Homo sapiens: one gene and its partner. The protein of the gene in region 2 interacts with the protein of the main gene of each other region in a biochemical or structural test. Each region holds a gene or a part of one and is shown on either strand. Other genes may lie near its edges. The genes, in order: CD8A and CEACAM5.

Region 1 (4,547 bases), on a different chromosome or scaffold from region 2:
AAAAACTAGACCAGCCAAGTAGGAAAAAAAATTGTTTTCTTAAGAAAACAACAAAACCCAGATGGAATAATCAGAATAAAGAGGAGGTCAGGTCCTACGAGGAGCTAGGATAAATTGGGGGAATCCCTCAGGTTTTTTTTTTTTTTTTTTGGAAGTGCCAGGTCAAATAAGATGGAGATTTACTGGAGTCACACTGCTGTTGGCACCCGCCTAACCCGGGCCTCCTTTTTCTCAAAGACACAGGCCAGATGCCAGCCTTGGCCTCTCTTTGCTCAGGAACTGGCTGACTCCCTGCCCCAGGATTTCACGGCCATGACCTCTCTCTGGGAAAAGTTCCCACTATTTGCTGCTGGGGAAACCAGGACCCCACCCCAGGGCTGGCCAAGGTGAGCAGGCTGAGTTCAAAAGAGACTCACCGGGGACATTTGCAAACACGTCTTCGGTTCCCTGGATAAGGAAAAAGAAGGGAAAAAGTGAGTGCCCCTATCCATCAATAGTCCCCAAAGACAGTGTATTTTTTGTTGTTGCTGTTGTTGTTGCTGCTGTTTTTTGGTTTTACAAAAAATCATTTCAGAACGATCATGGGCTGAAATTGGATGAGGCAAATAGGGAATTGCCTCTACGAATTCTCCTTCCTTTCCCCTATTTCTTTGAGGATTATAACTCTTGAGAGCCGGGTAAGGGCTTCTTATCCATCCTTCGTCTCAAGCATCAATTAAAAAAAATTGCAACTACAGACGCGGGCGAAAGCGGGGAGCCTGCAGACCTGATCCGGCACCTCTCTTGCATGGGACCCAAAGCAGGGTGGGCGGTTCGCCGAAGAGGGCCAAGGACGAACCTCAAACTGATGGTGGTTTTGACTAACCCTCCTGGGCACTTGACTCGGCCACAGCGGCCCCCTCCCGGCGGGCGTTTGTCATGTGTCCAGACATGTGCGCGCGCGCTGCGGGCTTCGTCGACGGAACACACCCGCTGCAGCGGCTCTGGGAACGCGGCTTTGTCTCCCAAAACCTCTCCGAGAGCGCAAGGAGCGGGAAGGGCTTTCTCGCATTCTATCTCCCAGAAAGAAGTGCCTGTACCTGCGGGGCAGCTCGGGAGTCCCAGAAAACTCAACCCCAAGCTCCCCCCTCGCAAGGTCCGCCTGGAGCTAGCAGAGCCAAGGGCAGGAGCGGGGCCGACTCCTTCCCGCCGCGATTCCTCGGGACTTACTGTGGTTGCAGTAAAGGGTGATAACCAGTGACAGGAGAAGGACCCCACAAGTCCCGGCCAAGGGCGCCCAGATGTAGATATCACAGGCGAAGTCCAGCCCCCTCGTGTGCACTGACGACACCAAAGACGCCGACATTTAGGAGAGGGCCCGGGACCTCCCAACCGCCCCACCGTCCCGGGAACGTCTCTCCGCCTCAGATCTCGGTTTCCCACCACTTGGACAGCCCTTGACTCTACCTACAGTATCAGGGCTGTCCCTGGCATGGGCTCTCCCCGCGGTGCGTGCCGCCCCCGCCCCGGGCCCCCGCACGCCTCACCTGCGCCCCCCGCCGCTGGCCGGCACGCCTCTGGGCGCAGGGACAGGGGCTGCGACGCGATGGTGGGCGCCGGTGTTGGTGGTCGCGGCGCTGGCGTCGTGGTGGGCTTCGCTGCAAGAGCAACAGAGCGTGGTTGGGGGCCAGGCTGGGGTTATGGAGGCGCCCCAGCCCCGGCCTCGCGCACCTTTCCCCACGGGGACGCCTCCCCCCGGTTTTCCTGGGAGAAGGGATAGCAGAGGAGACAGGATGGGGACCCCGGGATGCGCGCGGACCCCTGTGCTCGGGCCTCGGCTCAGCCCAGCGCACCCGGCGCCCAGAGCCGGAGCGCAGGAGCCAGCTCCCCTGCACCTGGCCTCTCTCCCGGGCTGAACCAGCAACCCTGGAGCGCGGGTTGATTGCTGTCCGCATTTTACCCACGAGCAAACGGAGGCGCAGATAATTTAAGTCATTTGCCCAGAATCACACAAGAATCCGAACTCGAGTCCAGATCGGCCGGACGTAAAAAGCCATCCCCAGTCCCTACTCAGCCTCGCGTTAGCCTCAGTTTGCTGTGTCTGTGAAATGGGAACAGTATCTAAGTCGCTTCCAGGTGCGCTAAGAGGCTTGAAAGCAGGGCCCAGGTGTGGAAAACAGGTTGAGGTGAACCCCAAGCCCCACGCGGAGAGGTGCCGCAACCCGGCGCGCGGACCTGGCAGGAAGACCGGCACGAAGTGGCTGAAGTACATGATGGAGTTGCTCAGGGCCGAGCAGAAATAGTAGCCCTCGTTCTCTCGGCGGAAGTCGCTCAGGGTGAGGACGAAGGTGTCCCCCAACCTCTTGCCCGAGAACCGCTGGGTGTCCAGCCCCTCGGCCGCCTTGGGCTTGTTTTGGGAGAGGTATAGGAGGAAGGTGGGACTGGCGGCGGCGCCGCGCGGCTGGAAGAGCCACGAGCAGCCCGACGTCGGGTTGGACAGCAGCACCTGGCACTTCAGCTCCACTGTCTCGCCCAGGTTCCAGGTCCGATCCAGCGGCGACACCCGGAACTGGCTCGGCCTGGCGGCGTCTGCAGGCGGCAAGCAGCGAGGCTGAGCCCGCAGTCCCGCGCCCCCCGCCCCCCGCCCGCCCCATCCCCTGCCTTCCCGGGCGTCTCAAACTCACGGAGCAGCAAGGCCAGCGGCAGGAGCAAGGCGGTCACTGGTAAGGCCATGACGCGCTCCCCAGGACGCTGCTTGGCTCGAAGCTCGGGCGCGAGGGGAGGCGCGCGGGAGCCGGTGGGGCGCCGAGGGGGGAAAGTTGCGCCCTTCGGCCGGCCCGGAGCCTGATTTCGCATTTGGAGGATGTGATGTCACCCGAAGCCCCCGCCGAGGAGAGTCACCCTCCTTTTCGCGGTTGTCGCCTTCCAGCCCGGCGAGGAGGCTGGGGCCCGTGAATAGGGCCGTCGAGGCAGCCTGGCCAGGCAACTGGGGGCAGCTGAAAACTGCGGGTTTGGGGATGAGGAAAAGGGCTTGGAAATAGTCCTTGGAAATGGTTGTCTTGTGAGAGTGACAGAGTGGGTGAAGGGAGACCAAAGATTTCAAGAAGTGAGGGCGAGAGTAGGCAGCAAAGGAGGGGAGTGTCCCTTCCTTTGCCTTCACTAAAGGCGTCTCTTGTACTGTCACCTTGGGACTTTTTATTGGCAAAATGGGCACTGAGGGCTGAAAAGGAAGAGGAACTAGCGACCTGCCCGCTTCTGAGGAACTCGCTAGAGCAGCCCCAGTTTTCACCGAGGAAGGACCCTCTCCCTTCCCCCAGGAGATTTCCATGAGAGCGGCAGCAGCCGAAGCTTTGGGTGTCGGTGTCAGTGCGCTGCTGACCTCATTCTTCCGGCCTTTCATCCAGCGGCTAAACTCACCACACAGCCTCATCTCTTCTTGGAGCCATTGCAACAGCCTTCAATTCACACCAGTCTCTCTCCTGATCAGTCCTCCAGCCACGTTGTTATAAAAATTATTATTCTCACAAAGGGGATCTGACAGCGTCACTGCTGCAGCCTCCCATGGCCTGCATTGCTGGATGGAAATTCAACCCCCAGCTTGGTTGACCAGCCCTTGGGTGCTGGCTCCTCCCAGCCTCCGCACAGCCCCCTGCCCTGCCTTTCCCATACACCTGCAGCTGCAGCTTCACAGGCTTGAAGTCATTCAACCCCTGCGCTCTGTGCTTTCACGCCCTTGCACTTGCGGTCCCTCGGCCTGGAATGCTGGTCTGTTTAAGCCCTGGAGGCAGCTCCTGTGCTGTCTCATTTGGACCTCATTTCTTTCACCCCCAGCTCTGGGTGCTCTGCAGGGAGGTGTGGGTGATGTGGGTGAATGCTTGGGTAGAGGCGGTTTTCTCTTTTCTGTCCCTAACACATGTGTGTCCCCTTCCTTTTTGTTTCTTTAAAAAATAAAATAAAATAAAAAAGACTGGAGTCTCGCTGTTTTGCTCAGGCTGGCCTTGGGACTCCTGAGCTCCAGTGATCCTCCCACCCCAGCCCCCTGAGTAGCTGGGACTACAGGCTCATCTTTCCTTTTTGACTGTTGCTGTCCTGAAACCTTCCAGCTCCAGTGGCATGCCCTCTTCCCATTTCTTCAGGGTTTCTGAGTCTTTCCACTTTGAATCCCATAGTGGCTGCACCTCACATTGCTACTGCTTGATCCTAGAGACAAGACACCTGGCATTCTGTGTTCCATGTGTCTGCCCCACCCATTAGTTCTGCTGGGCGAGGACCATGCCGAGACTTCATGATGTGTCCTCCATCCCCAGAAACACAGCATGGGCTGAGCTGTGCTTGTTGAACTGCATTCTCCTTGTCCTTGTGAAGTACAAACTTAAGTGTTGGATGGGTTCTTTGTCGTTGTTGCTATTTTTTTTTTTGAGATGGGGTCTGGCTGTGTTGCCCAGGCTGGAGTGCAGTGTGGCACCACCTCGGCTCACTGCAGCCTCTACCTCCCAGGCTCAAGTGATCCTTCCACCTCAGCCTCCCAAGTAGCTGGGACCACAGGAGCACACCACCATGCCCAGCTA
Region 2 (2,966 bases):
TATAGGCGTGAGCCACCGTGCCCAGCCAGAAAAACTCCATGGGCAATTCTAATCCTCCTAGCTGAAAGTCATGGGTTTAGCCCCAAGTCCTACCTATTTAGAACAGGGTTTCTCCATCCTGGCTACACATTAGTAGCATCTGGGGAGGCTTAAAAATTACGAATGCCTGGGTCCCACTCCAGACCAGTAAATCGGAATTTATCGGTGGGACTTAAGTATCCATTTTATAAAATGTTTCTGAGTGATTCCAATGTGTAGCTATATTTTCCGTCAGATTTCTCTAATTTCTTGTGATGTTCACTCCTTTCTATTTTGGCATTATGATTATTTTTCAGGTTTTGTCTCCTGTTATAGAATTAAGGACCTTGCCTTCTTCATTTCTGTATCTGTTATGAACATATGAATTGGTTATCAGGAAAAGGTTCTCAGTCACAGGCACAGTTGTGTCCTGAGCTTAAGACTCACAGGTTAATGCTACAGTCTTTGTTCTTCATGAGGTCAGAAGTTGCTTGTGATTAAGGGTGTGGGTAACTCCACAGTGCAGACAGTGGAAGGAGGTCACCCTGTTTGACATGTTTTTAGGTGTAACACCGGAACTAAGAATTCTGTGTACATGTGGGGTGGAGAGGCAGGGATGTGTAGGGAAACAGATCTATTAGGATGATGGAATTATATAAGGGAGTGGTGGTAAAGGAAGTAAAAAAGATTAGTAAAGAGAAGAAATGTGAACTTATCTAATACACCACAGTAGGCCCCTGTGTCTTCTTGAGTAGGCGAGTGAACTAGATTTTAGGAAGGTAATGAGGCAGTCATATGCAAGAAAGATTTCAAAGACTGGCAACAAGGGGTCAAGCAGGACTTTGAGCAGTTGTTGAGGTTTATGGGAATGGAGAGAATGACACAAGTGTGAGATGTTAAAAAAGGACCAAGAGGCTTTGACAATGTATTGAATCTGGGAAACAAATGAGCAGAGGGTGGGGATAATTATATCTAAGAGACAGTGGCGTACAGGGAGCATGAAGACCAGGGAAGAAGAGACCTGCAGGAATTAGTGCTGAGAAGCAGGAGCTTGGGGGTAGGAGGAAGAGATCCAGTCCCAGATACAGGTGAAGAAATCCCTTCCCTCTCCCAAGCATGGCAGTCAGCACTGCAGGAAACAGAACAAGAGGAAAGGCCATTATACCTACCAGTCTTCCTGAAATGAAGAAACTACACCAGGGCTGCTATATCAGAGCAACCCCAACCAGCACTCCAATCATGATGCCGACAGTGGCCCCAGCTGAGAGACCAGGAGAAGTTCCAGATGCTGAATCGTCCGTCATGGAAAGAAAAGAGAAGGAATGAATGTGATGTTATTTTACAGTGGGGTGCCCCAGGTTCCAGCTCTCAGCATGAAGCAGTCTCTACTTGTTGCTTCAAGGAATGCATTAGTTTTGTGGGAAAGTTGCAATTTTTTCTCTCTCACTGTGTTGCTAGTTGGTGATCAGTCTTCTGTCAATTCCACCCTGGCCTGTCTGCACTCAGCTATTTCTGAAGGCTTTGAAATTTGAGAAAGTCTGATTGCTATTTTTGCGTGTCATTAGAACTTTCTATCTTTTCATGGTTGCATCTTTTTCTCAGTGTCTCAGTTGTGGTAGGCATAAATAAGTCTGTTGGGTCTCTGTGGCAGGGACTTGATTGGCAGAAGGCCCAGGCTAGTGCATTCTGTATTTACTAAGTCCGTTGCACAGAGAACTCGCTTCTCATGGGCTCCCACCAGGGGAATGAAAAGCCCAGTTCTGGGGGACTCTGCTTCTCTCTCATGGGTGAGGGGCTTGAGGACGCCCCACCAGCCTTGTGGAAACTCTGAGAACTGCATCACTATCTAAAACTCTCTCCTCTTTCTCCTTCTCAGGAATCAGATCTGCATCGTGGTCTGAGGGCTCTCTCAGGCTCCTCCCACTTCTACTCCACTTTTCCTCATGGTGGTTCCCCCCGGTAAATTATCTTGCACCTCTAATTCCATCTTGGCTGAATCTCAGTGGATGAAAACTAACATACCAGGCTTGATTCTTTGCACTTAACTTTTTTTTCTCTCCCCCATTTTTAGCCAGTAACCATGTCCTAGTGGGTTTTCATTTGGGGCTTGGCTCTCACTAGTCAACTCAGGCTGATGATTAATGCTATGTTAGCTACTGTAAATGCTTTTCTGGCATCTCATTTGATCCATACAATAACCCTGTTGGGTAGGCATGATTTCCATCTTACAGATGAAATGACAGAGACTTGGAGTGGTGAAAAAACTTATCCAAAGTCATATAATTAGTGAGAAGTGGATCTAGGATTTGGCTCTAGAACTGCCTAACTTCAAGCTAATAATAACAGTAGTGATAATAGCAGCTAATATTTATGAAGTTTCCCTCTGTGTGTAGCATTTTGCTGAAAGCTTAATCGAATATTACATTAAATCTTTAAAACAATACTGTTAAACAGTCATTCTTATTGCAATTTTCATTTTTCCTCCATTTCCTGGTGATGAGAATTATTACAATTTTCAGTTGAAGAATTGAAGGCTCAGAGAAGTTAAGAATCTTGTGTGAGAAATTTAATGGTAAATACATTAAATATAAAGAGAGATCTCAAATCAACAACCTAACTTTACAACTTCAGGATACAGAAAAAGAACCACCTCAAACCACAGATAGTACATGAAGGAAATAATAAGGATTAGAGTTTAAATAAATAAAATGGAAAATTGAAAAACAATAGAAGGAATCAATGAAACCAAAAGTTGGTTCTTCAAAAAAGATCAACAAAATTGACAATCATTTATTAGATTGACTAAGAAAAAAGAGAGAAGATTCAAATTACTAAAATCAGAAATGAAAATGGAGGTATAGCGGCTCACACATTTAATCCCAGCACATTGGGAGACTCAAGCAAGAGGATTACTTGAGGTCAGGAGGTCAAGACCAGCCTGGGCAACA

Evidence for each region.
Region 1: the proteins of CEACAM5 (region 2) and CD8A form a complex in vitro, tested with the Homo sapiens proteins (one large-scale study listed by IntAct).

What each region holds. Positions count from the first base shown.
Region 1 is NC_000002.12:86,788,114-86,792,660, forward strand, and holds the start of CD8A (T-cell surface glycoprotein CD8 alpha chain isoform 1 precursor), read right to left. Parts: upstream 2,801-4,547; 5' UTR 2,713-2,800; coding exon 2,664-2,712; intron 2,569-2,663; coding exon 2,215-2,568; intron 1,638-2,214; coding exon 1,527-1,637; intron 1,321-1,526; coding exon 1,210-1,320; intron 448-1,209; coding exon 417-447; intron 1-416. UniProt on the Homo sapiens protein: Integral membrane glycoprotein that plays an essential role in the immune response and serves multiple functions in responses against both external and internal offenses. In T-cells, functions primarily as a coreceptor for MHC class I molecule:peptide complex.
Region 2 is NC_000019.10:41,725,574-41,728,539, reverse strand, and holds part of CEACAM5 (cell adhesion molecule CEACAM5 isoform 1 preproprotein), read right to left. Parts: intron 1,307-2,966; coding exon 1,224-1,306; 3' UTR 1,188-1,223; intron 1-1,187. UniProt on the Homo sapiens protein: Cell surface glycoprotein that plays a role in cell adhesion, intracellular signaling and tumor progression. Mediates homophilic and heterophilic cell adhesion with other carcinoembryonic antigen-related cell adhesion molecules, such as CEACAM6.